5 separate regions of the Homo sapiens genome follow, and all the other regions are linked to region 2. The links come from fine-mapping of genetic effects on gene expression. A gene starts in region 2. Each other region holds a variant in brackets. All regions are shown on one strand. Distances are from middle to middle. Region 1 has its middle 85 kb from the start of LINC00299. Region 2 holds the start of ID2 (inhibitor of DNA binding 2). Region 3 has its middle 110 kb from the start of LINC00299. Region 4 overlaps LINC00299 (long intergenic non-protein coding RNA 299). Region 5 has its middle 120 kb from the start of LINC00299.

Evidence for each region.
Region 1: its variant is fine-mapped to the expression of ID2 in whole blood (TOPMed, PIP above 0.99).
Region 3: its variant is fine-mapped to the expression of ID2 in whole blood (TOPMed, PIP above 0.99).
Region 4: its variant is fine-mapped to the expression of ID2 in whole blood (INTERVAL, PIP above 0.99).
Region 5: its variant is fine-mapped to the expression of ID2 in adrenal gland (GTEx, PIP 0.94).

What each region holds. Positions count from the first base shown.
Region 1 is chr2:8,411,764-8,415,892 of GRCh38, forward strand. No RefSeq gene overlaps it. Among named protein-coding and RNA genes, the nearest start is that of LINC00299, 85 kb to the left of the region's middle. The variant TG/T (reference allele first, on the strand shown) is at 2,267.
Region 2 is chr2:8,680,133-8,684,230 of GRCh38, forward strand. ID2 (inhibitor of DNA binding 2) reads left to right here and starts at 1,924. Exons shown (of 3, transcript NM_002166.5): 1 at 1,924-2,381; 2 at 2,711-2,774; 3 at 3,553-4,098. The coding sequence starts at 2,034. The coding sequence ends at 2,767. ID2-AS1 (ID2 antisense RNA 1) reads right to left here and starts at 1,731. Exons shown (of 4, transcript NR_110154.1): 1 at 1,695-1,731. RefSeq lists enhancers at 1,123-1,626, 2,114-2,163.
Region 3 is chr2:8,432,127-8,436,255 of GRCh38, forward strand. No RefSeq gene overlaps it. Among named protein-coding and RNA genes, the nearest start is that of LINC00299, 110 kb to the left of the region's middle. The variant G/C (reference allele first, on the strand shown) is at 1,539.
Region 4 is chr2:8,302,695-8,306,796 of GRCh38, forward strand. All of the region lies in intron 2 of LINC00299 (long intergenic non-protein coding RNA 299), which reads right to left. Among named protein-coding and RNA genes, the nearest start is that of LINC00299, 24 kb to the right of the region's middle. RefSeq lists an enhancer at 1,184-1,403. The variant A/T (reference allele first, on the strand shown) is at 2,336.
Region 5 is chr2:8,444,487-8,448,615 of GRCh38, forward strand. No RefSeq gene overlaps it. Among named protein-coding and RNA genes, the nearest start is that of LINC00299, 120 kb to the left of the region's middle. RefSeq lists an enhancer at 2,614-3,813. The variant C/A (reference allele first, on the strand shown) is at 2,436.

The DNA of each region.
Region 1 (4,129 bases), 270 kb before region 2:
CCCCAGTGCCCCCAGGCTGGGGTCCCCAGAATGTCTCGCACACGATGGCCGACACACACGTCTGATCATGTCCATGTCCTGGTGAGAGCCACCCTGGCCCTCCATGGCTTTCCAGATAAGGCCTGTGCTGCGGTCGGCACCTGAGGCCCTCCCGGTCTCTCCTGCTTTTCTAGCCAGGCCTCCATAAATGTCGGCCTCACATTTAGTAAAGCATGATGGGTTCTCCATGAATAACTAGAATGGATGAATGAATGAACCTGCCACTTGGTGCCCTGAAAGAACCATTCCTCTGGCCATTCTGAACTATTAATATTTCCAATTCCCTCAACGTGGCACCCTTGAAGACAGGCCTGTGCCTGCTGCATACCCAGGCTAGCTGGCTCCCTGCTGGATTGTCTGCTTCCCAGGCCCTTCCCAGGTGGAGATGGTGGCCCTCGGTGCCTTCACGGTGCTTCAGATCTGTCTCCCCACTTGGGAAGTTATTCCCTCGGCATCAGCTTATTGCTGGTCTTCCCACTAATCTCAGAGTTTCCTAAAGTCAGGAATGACGTCATATTTGTCTAGGAGTCTCTGAGCACTGCCCGGTCTAACACCACGTTCTGTTAATGATTTATTAACCTGCGAAGGAATGGGCCACATGCCAATTGTGTCATACAAACAACACAAGCGAAGACATCAGTGTGGCATCTGTCTTTTTCCTTTTGGCTTTATTTCCATAGGGCTTTCCAGTACATGCCCCATTCTGTCTTATGAGAAGAGAATGGACCTTGAGGGCTTTTTTTCCCCTTCCTTTTTCTGCCAGACGCACTTCCTGCTGCATTGAGAGACTTTTGGAAGGTTCGCCTTTCCCTCAAATTTCTCATGATGTTGAAGAACTATAATCGCCACTGAATGGTCCAGTTTAGCACAGAGAAAGCCAACCAACATTCACCAGCAGACTTTAAATGCTGACAGTTGAAACAGCCAAGAAAAGTTCATTAAGTGCTAAGCAAGAAAAAGAGCAAGAAAATGAGACAGAATCGCTCCCTGGGGCATTGCAAAAGCAGGCCTTTGTGAGGAAACATTCCTGAAGGAATCTGGGGAAATGACATTGTAAAACTGCAACAGACGGCAGGATAGGACAACAGGCTCCCAAATAACTGCATGGCACCACACCAATGCTCCTTGTGGAGGGAGAGCACATCACAGAGCCCCTTGAGAGGCAGGCTGGAGAAGGCTGCCCCAGCACACCCGAACATCAAGGCGTTTTCAAACTTCTCAATTTTCTTTTCTTTTCTTTTTGTTTTGTTTTGTTTTGGAGACACAGTCTCTCTCTGTCACCCAGGGTGCAGTGCAGTGGTGCCATCTCAGCTCACTGCAATCTGCCTCCCGGGTTCAAGCAATTCTCATGCCTCAGCCTCCCAAGTAGCTGGGACTACAGGCACACCACCACACTCAGCTAATTTTTGTATTATTAGTAGAGACAGAGTTTCACCATGTTGCCCAGGTTGGTCTCGAACTCCTGGCTTCAAGCGATCCACCCGCCTCAGCCTCCCAAAATACTGGAATTATAGGTGTGAGCCCCCGCATCCAGCCTAAACTGTTTCTTTAAAGACCATTTGTACTCCCCTTGCCTCAGCACCAAAGGGAATGAGAATTCAGGGAAGCATGCCTCCCCCCTCTCAGTTTGCAGTTGAAAACTGGTCAAGAGGAACCAGGTACATTTGGGTTTTTTCTAAAGAAGCCAAGGATAAAAACCATGGCCACTATACCATGGACAGCTTTGAAATGAACAGAATTGTTTTCACACACAGGACCAGCCAGAGGTAAATGTGCCTCTTCAAAAAATGTGGTGTCAATGCAATGTGCAGAAACTGTCAGGGGTGGGGGAAGGGGACTCTAAGTAGGATGGTCATATCCTGTATTGTCCACACAAGGTCATTTTTGAGAGCAGAAGGAGAAGTTACTACTTACAACACCTGGACAATTCGTTGCAAACCAGCGCTACCCAGGCAAATAAGTGAGTCTGGCCACCTCACCCTGAGTAACGTACTCTGTGAACAAATTGCTGAGGTGAGGAGAAAGAATATCTGGGTTGTAGAGGCAAACACATACTTTTAAAAAAATAAATAAAGAGGCTCTCTCTGGACTTAGTACTTTGACTTTTTCCTGATGCAGTTACAGTCCAAATCACATAGGCATTTCTTATCAGCAAAAGCAGCCAATAAAATACAGAAGGACCGTGAGAGAGATGGGCCAGAGCTCTTGTGAAAGTCTTTCAACACAC[TG/T]GCGGGCTTCTGCCAACAGGAAAACATTTAGCAAGAGGTGTGCAAGCTATTTGTAGATACAACCCGATCATTCAAAGGTAACTATGATCTGGCACACAACAGCATGTACCCTTTAAAAATAAGCCCATAAAAGTGAAGCTTTGCTTCACATGTCTAAGTGTTTCTGCATTATATATATGATGAATATATATATATATATATTCCAATCAGGTGATTTTGAAAAAGTGAGAAACAGATATATTACCTGGGCACTGGAAATGCCCAGGTTCCTCAGACTTCAGAACTGGCTGAGCCCACAGCACTGCCCTTGCCGGCTACTTCAGGGACAGGTGATTTGAGGCAAGCCTTCTTCAAGTCTGCACCCCAAAAAAATCACCTGGAAAAATCTGAAGTCAGGATAACTACAGTTAAAAAAAAAAAAAAAAAAGCCCAGCAGATAGTGCGAACAAACAGACAAACAACAAAAATCAAGAGTGTTGTCTTGCAGCAGGTTCTTCTGTTCAGTGGCCAAAATTTTACTCCTGGATCCTTCATTTTAAAAATTAATAAATATGGCCAGGCGTGGTGGTTCATGTCTGTAATTCCAACACTTTGGAAAGCTGAGTGTGTGGATCTCTTGAGCTCAGGAGTTCAAGACCAGCCTGGGTGACATGGTGAAAGCCCATCTCTACAAAAAATTCGAAAGTAGCCAGGCATGGTGGCATGCACCTGCCTGGCTACCCAGCTACTCAGGAGGCTGAGGTGGGAGGATCAATTGAGCCCAGGAGGTCCAGGCTACATTAAGCCATGATCACATCACTGCACTCCAGCCTGGGTGACAGGGGGAGACCCTGCCTCAAAAAAATAAAAATAGACCTAAGTCCTCTTGACTCATCCTCAAATGCAAACCTAAAGGAGAAAGGGGGCTTCCCGCCCACCTCAGATCTCCACTTCTGTGCAGCCACCTCGCAGTGATGCTCCTGGTGCTGGAACATAATGAGGGGTCATGAGGAAGACATTGTCAAAATCCTCAGAGAGGGAAGAAGGAGTGGCTGCCTCCCAGCACAGAGGCCAAGTTGCAAGTTGACGCAGCCTAGCTGCGAGGCAGCCACACAGGCACACGGCACTGGGTGGGAACAGTTGGCCCTCTGGGCTCAGCACACCTACTGGTCTTGAGCAAGTCCTTCATCCTCTGGAGACAAGCTGTGACTTGGCTCATCTCAGATGGAGACGATGCACAAAGAGCAGGTTGCTGAGCACTCAGTGCCAGACAAGCCCACCAATTTTTAACATTGTGTTAAAAACTGTGTATTCTGTGTGTTCTGGGTGTGTGACCCACAAAGAAAATGGAAGCTCCTGGAATTCTGCTTTCTGTTGACTGTCCTCACAAAGTCTATTCACCCCGAAACACTGCCTGCACCACTTCCCTTTCCCCAAGCATAGTTCACGTTTTGGCAGACTAAACCTGTTCGTGTGAACTAAGGTAAAATTTCATTAACTTGGAATCGGCTGATTTGGAATCGTTCACACTAGGCTGAAGTTTAACTTTACACCCAGCAATCCTTTTCTTCTTTCACACAGCAATTTAAGTGTATAAACAGTATGTGGAGGGGGAAGTATCAAAATGCATCAGAGAATACATTGTTTCAACACATCCAAAGCACTCACTCACAAATAATTGTTACAGGAAATAAGTCATCGTTAAATATTCGTAATTGTAGCTCCCTAAGGACTCCTAATAGGCGACATTTCTATCTTAGTTTTGTTACTGTAGCTCATTCAATTCCTCTACTATTCAGACTGGTGTTTCCCTAAATTCTCCCAAATGAGTGTCATCTTACTCCATTTGAAATGAAAAGGGTCCTATGTCTAATAAACGTTAA
Region 2 (4,098 bases):
GTCAAAACAAAATCTGTTCCACTGTGGCACGTATGTGACAGAAACACATGCACACAAAGTACATCAAAAGGCTCGAACTGTGGGAGGACTCGGATAGTAAATCACTTCCAGACTTAATATCAGAAGAGATACGGTGCATCCAACGCTGTCAGGGACAGAGTCGCAGGCAGCATTGCCTGGCCTGGGGAAGGCCCTCCGCAAACTTCTGGCTGGACAGGAAACAGTTTACCTCCTTCCTCCAAACTGAGGGGGCTGAATTTCAGGAAGGTGAGCTCCACCTCAGTGCCACCCACTCTGCCTCCCTGGAGAGGCGTCATGGGGCGCATAGCTGTCACGTGACGGTCAGAGACTGCTGGCCCCACCAGCTGAGAAATTAATCATTAATTGAAGGAAAAAACACTGTTTCCCCATTATCGAGCTTTTCTTTCAGCTTCTAGGCCTGCCCCTTCCGCTTTCTGAAATGCAAAGGAGGTAGAGATTGAGGCAGAAAGTAAATAAGATTTGAATATTGCCTTTCCTGGAGTTTTCTAGTTCATTGTTTTCTGGAGCAAATATTTTCAAAAACAAGAAACTGACACACTGTGGTCAAAACAGAATTCTAGATAAGCTACAATTATGTGAAAATTAAGGTATTTAAGTAAATAGCTGCAAACTTTTTAAAACTTAGACTGAAAGAACGAGTTCTTAAAAGATTTTCAGCCAAAAAAAAAAAAAAAAACCTTGAACCCGTATTCAGTACTAGTGCTGAAAAGATTCCAAACCTCATATGACAGAATATTTTTTTTTCCTTAGTGTGAAGATGTCTATCAATGGCTAGGGCCACCTATCTGTCACAAAGCTTTGGAACTCCTCTAGGTGTTGGAATGTGACACCAGAAATCACAATTAGTGCATAATTAATCACATTACTTTGCCACCTACACGGAAGGGCACAGACCGGCAGCCTTTCAAGGGCAGTGTATGTAAATGTAGTTTCAATATGCAAATTCTCCTAATTATTTCCGATTAATACGATCATTATAATAGCCCTGCCTCCTTCTTGAAAAGGAACCCTGAAAGCGCCCTGCCTGTGAGAGCTCCTTAGCGACCGGTGAGGTTGGGCATGGTTTGCAATAAGTACTCATTTTCTTGAGTTTACAGTAATGCCTCCCGCGCTGCTCCGGGTTGCAAAAGCCCACACTAAGCCTGTCGTCGAATGCGTGCGTGGGTGGTTTGTTTGTGTTAACATAACTTTTCCTTATCTGAAGAGACGAACTCACTCTACAAACGTGACTCTTCAGTGACAACCTAATTTGCGTTTTCACTTTCTTCTGAAATGCTTTCTATCTTTCCTCACGCTCTCCCTCCGATGGGTTGCAGTGAACTGTGGCTTCCCCCCTGCGGTGCTGAACTCGCCCGTGTAGCTGTGATTTTAGAGCTGCCGACAGCTCTAAGGTGTGTAGGGCTTGGTCTGGGAACACCCCCAGGGCAAGGGTCCCGCCGCGCGCTTGGAATTAGAATTAAGAATGCATATTTAGGCGCCCAGGGTCTGCCCCCTTCTCCCTCCTCCTTCCCCTCCCCCTTCCCCTCCCCCTTCCCCTCCCCCATCTTCCCTTCTCTTCCTCCTCCCTCCTCCTCTCCCTCCTCCCGCCTCCCTCCTCCCCGCCCCCCGCCCGCCGCTCCCCGCCCCCCGCCCCCCGCCAGCCCCGCACTTACTGTACTGTACTCTATTTACCACCCCAGCTGGGCTCGCGCCCCGCCCACCCCGCGGGGATTGGCTGCGAACGCGGAAGAACCAAGCCCACGCCCCGCGCCCGCGCCCACCAATGGAAGCGCCCGCTCGTCTTGATAGACGTGCCACCTTCCGCCAATGGGGACGAAGGGAAGCTCCAGCGTGTGGCCCCGGCGAGTGCGGATAAAAGCCGCCCCGCCGGGCTCGGGCTTCATTCTGAGCCGAGCCCGGTGCCAAGCGCAGCTAGCTCAGCAGGCGGCAGCGGCGGCCTGAGCTTCAGGGCAGCCAGCTCCCTCCCGGTCTCGCCTTCCCTCGCGGTCAGCATGAAAGCCTTCAGTCCCGTGAGGTCCGTTAGGAAAAACAGCCTGTCGGACCACAGCCTGGGCATCTCCCGGAGCAAAACCCCTGTGGACGACCCGATGAGCCTGCTATACAACATGAACGACTGCTACTCCAAGCTCAAGGAGCTGGTGCCCAGCATCCCCCAGAACAAGAAGGTGAGCAAGATGGAAATCCTGCAGCACGTCATCGACTACATCTTGGACCTGCAGATCGCCCTGGACTCGCATCCCACTATTGTCAGCCTGCATCACCAGAGACCCGGGCAGAACCAGGCGTCCAGGACGCCGCTGACCACCCTCAACACGGATATCAGCATCCTGTCCTTGCAGGTAAGACCTGCTCCGGGGTCCCCGCCCCGCCGCCGCACACTCCCGCGGTCGTCTGGGCTGTCACTAGGAGATCCGTAGCCCAGACGGTGACTTTCGTATGAGCTATTTAACTTTATTTTCTTCAGAATCTGCTGTAGATTGAGCTGTGCGTGAAATTGCTAGTAAGTTCTGACATGTTAATGCGTCTGTCTTTAAATCTGAATTGTTACCATAAACGTGTTTAATGGAACTTGCTGGTCTGTGGACTACAAAAAAAAAAAAAAAAAAAAAAAAACCCTTTCTACTTAACATTGTCTTAACCTCGTACTCTTTATCCTCTTTCTTTCCAGGCTTCTGAATTCCCTTCTGAGTTAATGTCAAATGACAGCAAAGCACTGTGTGGCTGAATAAGCGGTGAGTGTTTGCTTGTGCCACCCGTGGGTAAACTGCCCCTCGGTGTGTGTGCGCGCGCGCGCATGTGTTTTTGCTTGTGTATCTATAAAATGTCTGATTTGGTAAATGCATGCTTACTTCGCGGTGTTACCCGTACTACATTGTCTCACTAGACATGAAGGAGCTTGTAGCTTTGGGTGCTCGAGATCACAGAACATTTTCCTTTAAAAGGAAATGATGCCAATAACTTACTACGAAGGCGGCCGAGGAACGTGTGTATTGGCTTTGTAGCAAATGTAATGCCCTGGATCTTCCTACGAGTCCTCTGGTACTATGAGGTACTAACCTCCACTGTAATTAATCTTACCGCCACAAATTCCATAGTGATCCTCCTTCCCTAAAACTATAGTCCTCTGGGATTCTCTGGGCTAGTTGAGGATTGCTACCCTGTGCCTTCAACCCTGTGATGTGGGATCCCAGACTTCCCTATCTGTTAACTAAAGGGCTGTTTTCAATCAAATAATTGTTACGAGAAGCAGACTGGCGCCTGTAGCACTGCTGTTGGAGATCCAAATAGGAGATTGGGTTGGGAAGTTTTTCCCTTGAGTCTCTGCTATTTTAATGTTTAATTTGCGCTGTCGAGGCGAGTGTGTGTGTTGCATCTGGACGCCAGGGTTTGCCCAATCTTTGAGTGTTTGGTTAAATGTTCAAACTGTGGCTTCCTCCCGGCGCCAGTCGCCCGCCTCTGCCCTTAGGTTACATTCTCTTAAACATGCCTTTCTCCCCCACTCTTTCGCAGGTGTTCATGATTTCTTTTATTCTTTGCACAACAACAACAACAACAAATTCACGGAATCTTTTAAGTGCTGAACTTATTTTTCAACCATTTCACAAGGAGGACAAGTTGAATGGACCTTTTTAAAAAGAAAAAAAAAATGGAAGGAAAACTAAGAATGATCATCTTCCCAGGGTGTTCTCTTACTTGGACTGTGATATTCGTTATTTATGAAAAAGACTTTTAAATGCCCTTTCTGCAGTTGGAAGGTTTTCTTTATATACTATTCCCACCATGGGGAGCGAAAACGTTAAAATCACAAGGAATTGCCCAATCTAAGCAGACTTTGCCTTTTTTCAAAGGTGGAGCGTGAATACCAGAAGGATCCAGTATTCAGTCACTTAAATGAAGTCTTTTGGTCAGAAATTACCTTTTTGACACAAGCCTACTGAATGCTGTGTATATATTTATATATAAATATATCTATTTGAGTGAAACCTTGTGAACTCTTTAATTAGAGTTTTCTTGTATAGTGGCAGAGATGTCTATTTCTGCATTCAAAAGTGTAAT
Region 3 (4,129 bases), 250 kb before region 2:
TTCTACTCATGTTCCAGTTCATGGTTCCAGAGATATACACAAATCGGTATGGTGTCTGCAGCAGATGGTGACTGAGGAACATTCTGCAACATTAAATGATTCATACTACTGTCACATTCATAGATAGGTGGATATAGACATCATATGCATATAACATGACACTAATCTTTTACATGGGCAACCAAAGGACTATTGAACACTAGAATTGCAAGGAGTTGCTATTAAAACTGTAATAAGGTATTTATTTTTCAAAAGTAACTAAAAACTTCACCTGTATTATTATAATTTGATGTTAATCGTTGAAATGTATTAATTATAACGTATACTTTTGAGCAAATTATGTTAAACAATTTGAAAGAAAAATAACTTTTTGAAAACATACATGGAAAAGAAATAACTTTAATGTCTTGAATTAAAATATTTTTAAATTTATATTTTAATGAAAATGTATTCAAATTTTGTATATCTTGAATACAATTGTATTTGATATTTTAATCCTTTAGATCTTTACTGTTACCAGAACCCAAATTCTGTGGAAATCTTAAGTATAACAATATAATTTGTTATGTTGCTAAAATGATGACAAGAAAATTAAGTTTCACGTGGAATGAATATACGATAATACATAAGTTATGTGTCTTTATTGCTCATCCAAACATCACTGGCTCCTTCAACAACACAAGAGTTCCAACATGGAGGAGTCTTCTATCAAGGTAGATACTTAACAAATGTTCACTGAGTGAGTGAGTGAATGTGGGTGAGTTTACATGGCGGTAAAGCCAGATAGTGCAGGTCCTTGATCACTGGTCAGACTTTAGCCAGGATGTGATCAGCATAGAGACTCCTCTTGCGCAGGGGAAAGATGCTATTAGAGCAATGTAAGGGAGATTAATCGAACATTTGGATGCAAGAGAGGCTGGAATTAGGAGAAATCAAAAGTAATATAACTATGCACTTTTGCTTTCACTTTTAACTTTTATGTTTTCACTTCTTTTTTTTTTTTTTTTTTTTTTTTGACAGAGTCTTGCTCTGTCGCCCAGGCTGGAGTACAGTGGCGGGATACGGGCTCACTGCAGCCTCCACTTCCCAGGTTCAAGCAATTTTCCTGCCTCAGCTTCCAGAGTAGCTGAGATCACAGGCATGCGCCACCACTCCCAGCTAAATTTTTTTGTAGTTTTAGTAGAGATGGGGTTTCATCATGTTGGCCAGGCTGGTTTCAAACTCCTGAGCTCAAGTGATCCTCCCACCTCGGCCTCCCAAAGGCCAGGGATTACAGGCGTGAGCCACCGTGCCTGGCCTGTTTTCACTCTTTTTAAGCTGTGCTTCTTTTTTCTTTTGAGCCATGGGCAGGAATGCCCTGACCTCTCAGGTGCAGGTGTGCAGTACTGCCCTCTGGAAGGAAGGCCTCTGTAAGTACTGCCCTCTGGAAGGAAGGCCTCTGTAAGTACTGCCCTCTGGAAGGAAGGCCTCTCTGTAAGTACTGCCCTCTGTAAGGAAGGCCTCTGTAAGTACTGCCCTCTGGAAGGAAGACTACTCCA[G/C]CTGTTGGGGGTGGCTTGGTACTGGGGAAGATCATGGACTTGGAGTTTCTCAGGCCTCATTTGAGTCCCAGCACCACCACTTCATTTACGGGGATTCTTAGGCTCCCATCTTAACTTCTCTGGACCTCAATTATTTCACCTGTAAAATAGAGACAAGGCTACCTCCCTCACGAGGTGGTTGTGACATGAGAAACGGTGTGCAAAGCATAGTTAGTGACTAGGAAATAGTGGGTGGTCAATAAATAGCAGCTGCTACGTTCCTTCAGGCTCCAGAGCCTGCACGCTGCGTGCAGATCCCATACTCCAGACCCCTGCCGCAGAAGGGTGGGCCAGGAAGCAGCAGCTTTGCCTTAACCATAGCGAGAAGCTTGTCAGAAGTGCAGGGTCTTGGCCATTTCCCCCAGGCCAACGAATCAGGGACTGCATTTCAGCAAGCTCCCAGGTGACTGGTGCACAAGATGGAGTCAGAGAAGCATCTAGAGCACTAGTTTCTAGTCCTGACCACACATTCAAATAACCTAAGGAGCTTTAAATAACCAGTGCCCCAGCCCCACCCCAGACATATTCATTCAGAATCCCAAAGAATGGTGTGAGCCTGGGCTTTATTCAAAAGCTCCCCAGGTGACTTTACTGTCCAGCCACAGTTGAGCCCCACTGGCTGCATCAAAATACATGAAGCCTCAGGACATGGTCTCATTATGGCTTTGGTGGACTCTAGGCACCTTTGCCTCCAGGAGTCCCTTCCTATGTAAAATAATATTAAAAATTAGTTTACTATGTCTTGGTATAAAGAGAAATATGTTAATACTATATAGTAAGATATTTTCTTTAACGTTTCCTTTTTAAAATTTTTTTTATTATACTTTAAGTTCTGGGATACCTGTGCAGAACGTGCAGGTTTGTTACATAGGTATACACGTGCCATGGTGGTTTGCTGCACCCATCAACCTGTCATCTATATTAGGTATTTCTCCTAATGCTATCCCTCCCCTAACCCCCAACCCCCCAACAGGCTCCAGTGTGTGATGTTCCCCTCCCTGTGTCCACGTGTTCTCACTGTTCAACTCCCACTTAGAAGTGAGAACATGCGATGTTTGCTTTTATGTTCTTGTGTTAGTTTGCTGAGAATGATGGTTTCCAGCTTCATCCATGTCCCTGCAAAGGACACGAACTCATCCTTTTTTATAGCTGCATAGTATTCCATGGTGTATGTGCCACATTTTCTTTCTCCAGTCTATGATTGATGGGCATTTGGGCTGATTCCAAGTCTTTGCTATTGTGAACAGTGCTGCAATAAACATACGTGTGCATGTGTCTTTATAGTAGAATGATTTATAATGCTTTGGGTATATACCCAGTAATGGGATAGCTGAGTCAAATGGCATTTCTGGTTCTAGATCCTTGAGGAATCGCCACACTGTCTTCCACAATGGTTGAACTTATTTATACTCCCACCGACAGTGTAAAAGCGTTCTTATTTCTCCACATCCTCTCCAGCATCTGTTGTTTCCTTTTTTTAATCTTCTGATTCAAAACACAAGCATTAACACATTTCATAGGTCCCTGAAAGTGTGCAGGCCTGAGGCATTGAGCCCCTGGATATGTTGGCCCTGCTTTGGGATATTATATAAAGGTAAGGGTGGAAAACATAGTTAATGAGAGAAGAGAGTTCTTCATGGAGCTGTAAAGCTGATGGCTCACAGAAAACCTGATCCAAGGAAGAAGAGGGAGGAGGAGAAGAGGAAGAAGAAAAGGAGATAGCAAAAAAGAAAGGAGGAAGGGAAGGGAGGAAGGAAGGTCCAGATTTTAATAAAATTCTAACCTAATGGAGGAAGTGCTGGGCGGGGTGGTCAAGAAACACAAACACCTGCATCTGTACAGCTATGATGAGGAGTTAATGCAAACAATGTCTACTGCACACCTCTATCCACTCATCCATTCTTTTAATCACTCGTTCTTTTGTTTCTCCAGTTCACAACAGAACCCCACACATATGCAAAACCCTAGCAATTTAAAGATGCAGAAACTATCATCCCTTCCTTCTATGGGCCAAACACTTGAGTCAGGCAACCCCATCCATGCCTGGTTTATTTCATTACTTTCTCAAGAATGTTAATGCAAGATTGCTGGGATGACCACACTTAATTAAAGCAACATGACCAAGAAGAAATCCCCAGGAACCACGTGGAAGTGCAGCGAAAGCTTCAGATATTCCCCCTGTAATTATAAGTTGTGTGGCCTGACAGCTGCTCCCAAGAGAGGCTTTTTGTAAATTATTTTTATTATTATTTTTTTAGAAATCTGGCATGAAAGGATTGGTTATAAAGGCGAATCCTTGCTGGTAGAAATCTTGAGTGGACTGTCTCCACCCCGTAGCTGTCCAGACATAGAGAAGAGGTTGAAAAGAGAGCAGAGAACTAAACAGAGACCACCCCACATAATGGAAGTCAAAACCAGTGGAAATAAAAATTTGCCTTTTCATGAGCACTTTGTTAGAAGAGGAAGTGAAGAGAAAAGTAGTATTCAGAAGTTGCATTTAAGCTGAGTAATTAGAAATACAGTACCACCATTCAATGCACAAAAGAGCAGGG
Region 4 (4,102 bases), 380 kb before region 2:
TCACTGCAGCTAGCGGGGAGACCTGGGCAGAGCACCCCAATGGTCACTGCAGCCGAAAGAGGACTGCTTGTCTTTCTGCTCTCACACCCCTTACCTAGGGAAGAGCAGAGAAAGGGTTGCTTGAATGGGAGGAATAGCAAAGAGAACAAAGAAATCCCAATGAGGGGAAACCTCTCAGCGCACCAGCCTCACTGTGTGCTGAGAGGCACCCACTGCCTTCCCTGCACTCCTTAGATCTTGTTCATGGGTGGTTGTTTGTTGTTGTTGTTGTTGTTGTTGTTGTTGCTGTTTTTAATGTAAGAAACAGAATCTTGCTGTGTTGACCAGGCTGGTCTCAAACTCCTGGCCTCAAGCGATCCTCCCCCCTCAGCCTCCCAAAGCACTGTGATTACAGGCGTGAGCCACTGCATCCAGTCTCATTCATCTTTTTGTACCATATTCTCTGTCCCACCACTCAGAAATATCTCAGGTGCTGTACTAGTGCCTTACACATCCTGGACCCTCAGTGCTGTCTCAAACTCCTGGCCTCAAGCAATACTCCCCACTCAGCCTCCCAAAGCACTGTGATTACAGGCGTGAGCCACTGCATCCAGCCTCATTCATCTTTTTGTACCACATTCTCTGCCCCACCACTCAAAAATATCTCAGGTGCTGTGCTAGTGCCTTACACATCCTGGACCCTCAATGCATAGCATGGTAGCACCAAAAGGTGTGAAATACAGAAATGAAATCATTAAGTGAGTCATTCATACCCATCATGGTTATTTATACGGTAATTTATATGGTCAAGCTTGACCGTCTTGGAGGGCTGCTGTCATCACAAAGCAGAACAAGGCCCACCAGGACACCCTGACCTCGTGCAGTGAGCCGGCCCTCAGGCTTGCACAACAACAACCCCCAAACACTGGCATGTTCCCAGCTGAGCCAACATGCACCAGACCCACCCAAACGTGGCCACATCGGAGCCATCTAGAAACCGATTTGAACACTGCTTCTTGTGGTGAGGGACAGGAAACCAAGAGGACACAGGGGGCCGTGTCGAGGTTAACAGGGAGGGCTGCAAGCCCAGATCTCTGGTTTCTGTTCCTCTCCAGCGTTCATCCTCTCCTACTGTTGTTAAAAATCAAATGTAAGATGCAGAGAGCCAGTCCAGGCTGTCCAGAGGACAGGGCTGAGCCTCGCTCCCCACTCCATTCCCAGGGCCTAGCACAGGGCCTGGCACAGAGGCCATATCACAAGTCAAGAAGGAAATCTTTCCTTTCTGCCAACCCTGGATCTTCCCAGAGAGGAGCCCTGTGTCCTCTTGAGGGCAGGATGGGTGGTCAAGGCAGGGACGCGGTAAAAACTAAGGTCGTACACCAGCAAGCTATCGACAAGCATTTAGAAAGCTGTGTCTCAACCAAGATAGTTATTGCAGCTTTATTTGTGTTATCAATAGTCAAAAAAAGGGGGGGGGGAAGACAACTTACTCTGAGCCCTAGGGTGCCTTGTCATAGGAGGTTCTGGGGGTAGGTACACAGTTACTATTTATCCCATGAATAAAAGGGTGGATGGAAATAGGCCAGGAGTTGGGGAACTTCACACAACAAAATCCAAACTGAATGATGGTGAGCCAAAACACAAAAATAACACAAAAGACCCCAAATTGTTACTGTATTTAGAAATAAGACCCAAATTATTATAAAAAATTGTCAGATTGCTACAAGGCAATTTTTTGGGTGCTATAAAAGGCCTCTGGCCCAGGGGCCTAACAGCCTCCTAAAAGAGGATATCAGGAAAAGCAAGTCGCTAAATAGAAGAAAATAAAAGAAAAGGAACTCGTCAGTCAAACTGCATCCTGCCTAGCAGGGAATCCACACACTCAGGGAATCTCAGATCCCAGGACTTCAGACTGAGATGGACTCGGTGTCTCTGGCCAATGAGAACCAAAGTCCTTCACACATCATGCTCCCTGAGACAAGAAAACGTAGGTATGCTTTAGGGGAAGAACAAAAACAGACAAGGGCAGTGGGAGTTTTGATTAGCATAATCTTTACAAATCCTTGCTTTGGAATTCCAGCTTGGCCACCTACTACATCATTTGGGCAAGTTTCTTAACCTCCCAGAACCTCAGTGTCCTCATCTGTAAAATGGCAATTATGAGAACGCTACCTACTTCATCACAGTGGCGTAAAGACTTACTAAGATAATTCCCGTTAAGTGCTTAGCACGTCGCCCTCCAAGCAGTCTGTTATTTTTCTGATGTGTCAATGTCACCATTCACCTGCTGTGCAGTTTTGAGCAGATGATGAACGCATGTGTCCTCCAGGAGCTCCTTCTGCGACATCCCCTAGGC[A/T]GCCCGACATGACTCAGCAACACGGTGCTAGGGCCAGATCCCTGGCTAGACACCGAGGTGTGGGGCCCTCGTCTCTGACCTGCCATTGAGCCACAGTGTGAAGCCTAAGCAAAGCCATTTCTCTAGGGACCTTGGCTTAGTTTTCTGGTAAAATACAAGTTTCATTCTAGGTGTTCTCTCAGCTATCTTCTAGGATGTTTTGGAGTCTGTGCTTTCATACAAACACAGGCTCATGCTGGAGCAGGGATGGCCATGGACATCCTTAACTCTCCTAAGAGCCACCCACGGCCTCCCAAGTCACCTCATCAGTTGTCCTCACAGGGAGCCACCCTCTGGGAGTATTTATATCCCTCTACTTTGATTACAGCTGATTAGTAAATTTACAATGTGTTTGAATTTCACTAGACTTACATTTCACAACAGAGAGCAAGGTTTAGTCAACACTTTCATTTGCTAAGGGCAACCATCCAGGCTTAATAAGGCTTTCCCTAAACAGACACCTTCTTTACAAACTTCTAGGAAGCCAAGTGTTAAACAAAAGTCTAACTTGAGACTTTTCTCTTGATTCCTATTATGGGCATTTGCAGTTTGCTTTGCAATTGCATTACCAAGTGCACACTTGCGCACATGCCTGGAAACGTGCACACACGCACAATGGAGCAACGTCCCAGTGTGACGGTTCCTGCTGGCCAAGAACAGCACTGGGTATTTGCATGGGCAAAGACTTTAACAGCGTGAACAGGATTTTCTGAACAAGTCTGGAAATAAAATACCTACCAGCTTTCAGAGTAAATTACCAAAAAAGCAAAGGAGAAAAACAGTTCTTCCAAAAGACAGTCATCTAACCTCCTTACTCCCTGTGCACAAATTACCAGGCTTCCCAGAATCCAATCTTAGGTGAGATGAGGAACAATGGAAGGTATTTACAAGTTTAAAAAATATCAAATTTTTGCTTCTGGACTCCCATGCTATGATGTCACTACCTTGTTGCACTGGTCTGAGAAAAAGAATTATATCTCTATGGGCCTCAGTTTCCCTGTATGTGAAATGAGAGTTTCAATTAAGCACTATCTCAGATCCTTTCTGCCTTCAAAATCATGGGAAATCTCTGTAACAGATTTTTTAACCCATGAGAGGCCTTAGGGTCACTATGAGTATCTGATAAACAGGTGGGCCTTCCCTCCAGAAATATAGACAAAGGCTCATAAACACAGAGAAGTTTACACAGAATGTGAAAGAGGATTCAGAGAACCCCTGAAGCCTGTCCCGGAGGATGGGTTTAAAACTCTCAACTCTGGAGGAGATGTTGAAAGACAATTTCTCCAAAAGAGAGGGAGAAGATACAGTAGCTAGGGAAGTCTGGAAATCTGAATTTTTAATTTAGAAATAGATATTGTGGTTTTGTTGTGAGCTTTGAAAAATTGAGCCATGATTCTGTATAACGCCTCTAAGACAAAGATAAGATGTTAAAGCAGGTTCGTGACCATGGTCAGCTATGGAAGCGGTACACAAGGCCAGTTAGCAGGGTGGAGTCAGGTTCTGAGAGATGAGGTGGTATGGGAATGTCTGGGGCTGTGGGTAATAAGTTGAGCTTTTTCCCAGATGTTCTCTCCATGTTCCAGAGAAGGTAGAAAGCTGGCTACCGACCAAATCTGATTTTGACATTCCTGTAAGATAGTGCCAAGCACTCAGATCTCATCAGCCCCGTGTCAGAGGCAGCAAGGCACCACACCATGGTTGGATAACCCCACATTCAATCCATTTTAC
Region 5 (4,129 bases), 240 kb before region 2:
AAAGAAGATATACAGCTGGTAAGTAAGCATATAACATCACGCGTCACTAGGGAATTCCAAATTAAAACAATGAGATACCCGTCGTAATAGGTAATAACAATAATGTCCACTATTAGAATGGTGCAGATCTAAAGCTGAAGGGTCAAGAAATAGAGAAGCATATTACTTAAAGTTTACAGATAGATTTCACAATAAATATAATCAGCAAGAATCAACATATGAAAGAGAGATGGTAGAGTACGGAAGGGCCCTACACTCTTTATCTTTCCTAGTGAGGAGTTAATATACACTTTCCAAAGCTGATTGATCAAGAATAAGGTAAAAATAATTTGAGATGAAGTTATGATGATAATGTCTAAAACAATTGAAAGCAAAAGTACTTATCTTTGGGGCATGGGTGTCCAAGAATGGGGAGATGTCTAGAAAGAGACTTATTTTGTATCCTTCTGTGCTGCTTGGATTTTTTTTAATAGTGTGCATGTAGTGTTTTTATAATTTAAAAAGCAATTTTTAATCATCAGTAATTTTTCTGTTAGGGAAGAAAACAGCTGAAGCATGAAGTTTATGGAAATTTTTTCTAGAAGCTTAATAGATGTCAATAACAAAGCATTGCTGAAAATAATGAATTTTTGAATTATGAAATGTCTTTAAGTTTTTCTCAAATTGCAAATCTCCCTGAGGGTGTTCCTCCAAGTCCTACTTATCAGACATACTACTAAGTTTAAATTATAAAATTCTTACCTGTAATTGAAGCCAGCTGCAACCTTTTTGACAAGGACTAATTGCCGATAATGATTTAAGTGCTGCAAATTCACATGCCACAATTGTTTTAAATAGGGGAACCTCTCACAGCTTTCTCTGAAAAGAACTGTTAATCTTTGCTGCTGACTTATCAAATCCTTCAGTCACCTGTTTGCCATCATTTTCACGAGCTGATAACGTGTTTATTCGAGTCCTAATGTGCAGGTGGAGGAATAAAGGTCTCATTTGATGGCACTGGAATTTCATCTAACATTTCCACATGGAAAGAGCTGGCACAAGCCTCAGGTTTGGCTTAGCAGAGAAAGACAATAAAGGCATGTATTTTTTTTTTAATTTGAAGCAAATGAAAAGTGAGCATTTATTTAATGTCAATAACTTTAGATGACAGAGCTGGGTAAAAGCCATGACCTGTAATGTCCCTTTAGCCTGCTGCAAATCAAGGATCCCTGGTGCTGAACAACAGCCAGGGGGCTGCTACTGGGGATGGCTCCTCCTCGCCCCGCCTCCCTGTCTCCTTTCACTGCATCTGATCTTTTCTTCTCTTCCTCAGCATTGTATCAGTTCCCCTTGGCTGCTCATTGCTGGTTTTGGAGGCACTAAATTGTTACAACCTCTGCTTGTTGGGTAAGGAGGAGTTTGGCAGCATATATTCAAAAGTTAACACAACCTTTCTCTTTGCAATTCTACCACTAAGGATTTATCTAAAGAAAATAATGGATCGGCCTGGCTCGGTGGCTCACTACTGTAATCCCAGCACTTTGGGAGGCCGAGGTGGGCTGATCACCTGAGGTCGGGAGTTCGAGACCAGCCTGACCAACAAGGAGAAACCCTGTCTCTACTAAAAATACAAAATTAGCCAGGCATGGTGGTACATGCCTGTAATCCCAGCTATTCAGGAGGCTGAGGCAGGAGAATTGCTTGAAACCGGGAGGTGGAAGTTGCAGTGAGCTGAGATCGTGCCATTGCACTCCAGCCTGGACAACAAGAGCAAAACTCTGTCTCAAAAAAAAAAAGAAAAAGAAAATAAGAATGGATCATGTGCAAATTTCTAGCTGCAATGATTTCAATTAGAGTATTTTTTATAATGCTGGGACACTGGGAACAATCTAAAGGGTCAGCCATAGGGGGCTGGTCTGATGCCTGAGAGCTCAGACACGGGAAGGATGTGCATCCACTCAGGATATCTGGGCTCCATGGCCTGGAAAACTGTTGCCAGAAAGGGGTCCCAATCCAGACCCCAAGAGAGGGGGATCTCGTGTAAGAAAAAATTTGAGGCGAGTCCATAAAGTAAAGCAAACGCAAGTTTATTTAAAAAGTAAAGGAATAAAAGAAGGGTGGGATATGTAAGGGAACTCCATAGGCAGAGCAGCCCGAGGGCTGCTGGTTGCCCATTTTTATGGTTATTTCTTGATGATATGCTAAACAAGGGGTGGATTATTCATGCCTCCCCTTTTTGGACCAGATAGGGTAACTTCCTGACATTGCCACGGCATTTGTAAACTGTCATGGCGCTGGTGGGAGTGTAGCAGTGAGGACGACCAGAGATCACTCTCATCACCATCTTGGTTTTGGTGCGTTTTGGCCAGCTTCTTTACTGCAACTTGTTTTATCAGCAAGGTCTTTGTGACCTGTATCTTGTGCCAAATTCCTATCTCATCCTGTGACTTAGAATG[C/A]CTTAACCTTCTGGGAATGCAGCCCAGTATGTCTCAGCCACATTTTACCCAGCTCCTATTCAAGATGGAGTTGCTCTGGTTCAAACACCTCTGACACTTACAAAGGTATGACCTTTAGCCAATTGCTTAAGCACTGTCAGGCTCAAATTCCTCCTCTGTCAAATGGGAACAACAGCACCTAGCTCACCTGATCACTGGGGAATTAAAAGGTCTCAGGAACACAAAACACTCCACATAGTGCCTGGTCTGTTGTCAATATTTGATAAATGCCACTTAATGATAATAGTGATTATAATAAGGCTAGCAGTAATATTAAACCATAACAATCATGTTGAAGGGGAAGATGGACTGAGGGAAAGAAATATCCCTGTGGGAATTCAAGTCAGGAAACAAAAAAGTAGCTGTTCTTGAGCTCGTTCAAGTAATACATGCAAAATAAAAGACAAATTATCAAAGTAAAAGGTTAATGGGGATTATTCCTGAGTGGTAGAATTATGCTGATTTTCTTTTCTTTTGGATTCTCTGTATGTAAAACTTTCTACAAAGAAAGTATTTTACTTTACTAATTAAGAGATAATTTTTTTTTTTAATTCCTCCCTTAGGTGACCGCAGTTCACAGAATTTCAGAACCGGAAGACACTTTAAGTACCATCTACTCCAACCTCATCACTCTACTGATGAAGAACCAGAGCATCCAGAATGGAGTGCTGTCCCCACTGGATCCTGCAGGGAAGGACCCCCAGAGCCCAGGGGTCCCCACAGCCTCACAATGTAATTGGAATTAGACTCAAGGCACAGTCATCTGGGCATCTCCAAGGACTAGATCTTGGTTCTCTCCTTTTATCCCAGATATGTGTCATAGTGCCTGGCACATGGTAGGATGGCAGTAAATATTTGTTGAATGAATACACATATGAATATGAGTCACTTGTGCTCCCATAAGCGTTAGAAGACAAGCAAACAGCTCTGAAAGCAGCAGTTAGTCTCCTGGGGGTATCTGAGAAAGCTTCCTAGGAAGGAAATAGCAAAATCAGGTCCCAGAAGGTGAGTTCAAGTGAGTTCTGTCAGAAGCGTCTGAACCAGAGTGACTCCATCTTGAATACAGGCTGGGTAAAGTGAGGCTGAGACCTGCTGGGCTGCATTCCCAGAAGGTTAGGCATTCTAAGTCACAGGATGAGACAGAAGGGTGGCACAAGACACAAGTCACAAAGACCCCACTGATAAAACAGGATGTGGTAAAGAAGCTGGCCGAAACCCACCAAAACCAAGACAGTCATCCTCAATGCTCATTATATGCCATTATAAAGCATCGCATGCTAAAAGACACTCCCACCAGTGCCATGACCATTTACAAATGCCATGGCAATGTCTGGAAGTTACCCTACATGGTCCAAAGGGAAGAGGAACCCTCAGTTTCAGGAAATCCCCACCACTTTCCAGGAAAACTCACCAACAATCCATTGTTTCCCATATGATCAAGAAATAACTATTAAAATCGCCAACCAGCAGCCCTCAGGGCTACTCTGTCTAGGGTACTCCATTCTTTTATTTCTTTGCTTCTCTGATAAACTGCTTTCACTTTACTCTGTGGACTTGCCCCAAATTATTTCTTGCATAGGATCCAAGAACCCTCTCTTGGGGTCTAGATCAGGACCCCTTTCCGGTAACAGTTCCAGACCAAGCAAACAGCCATG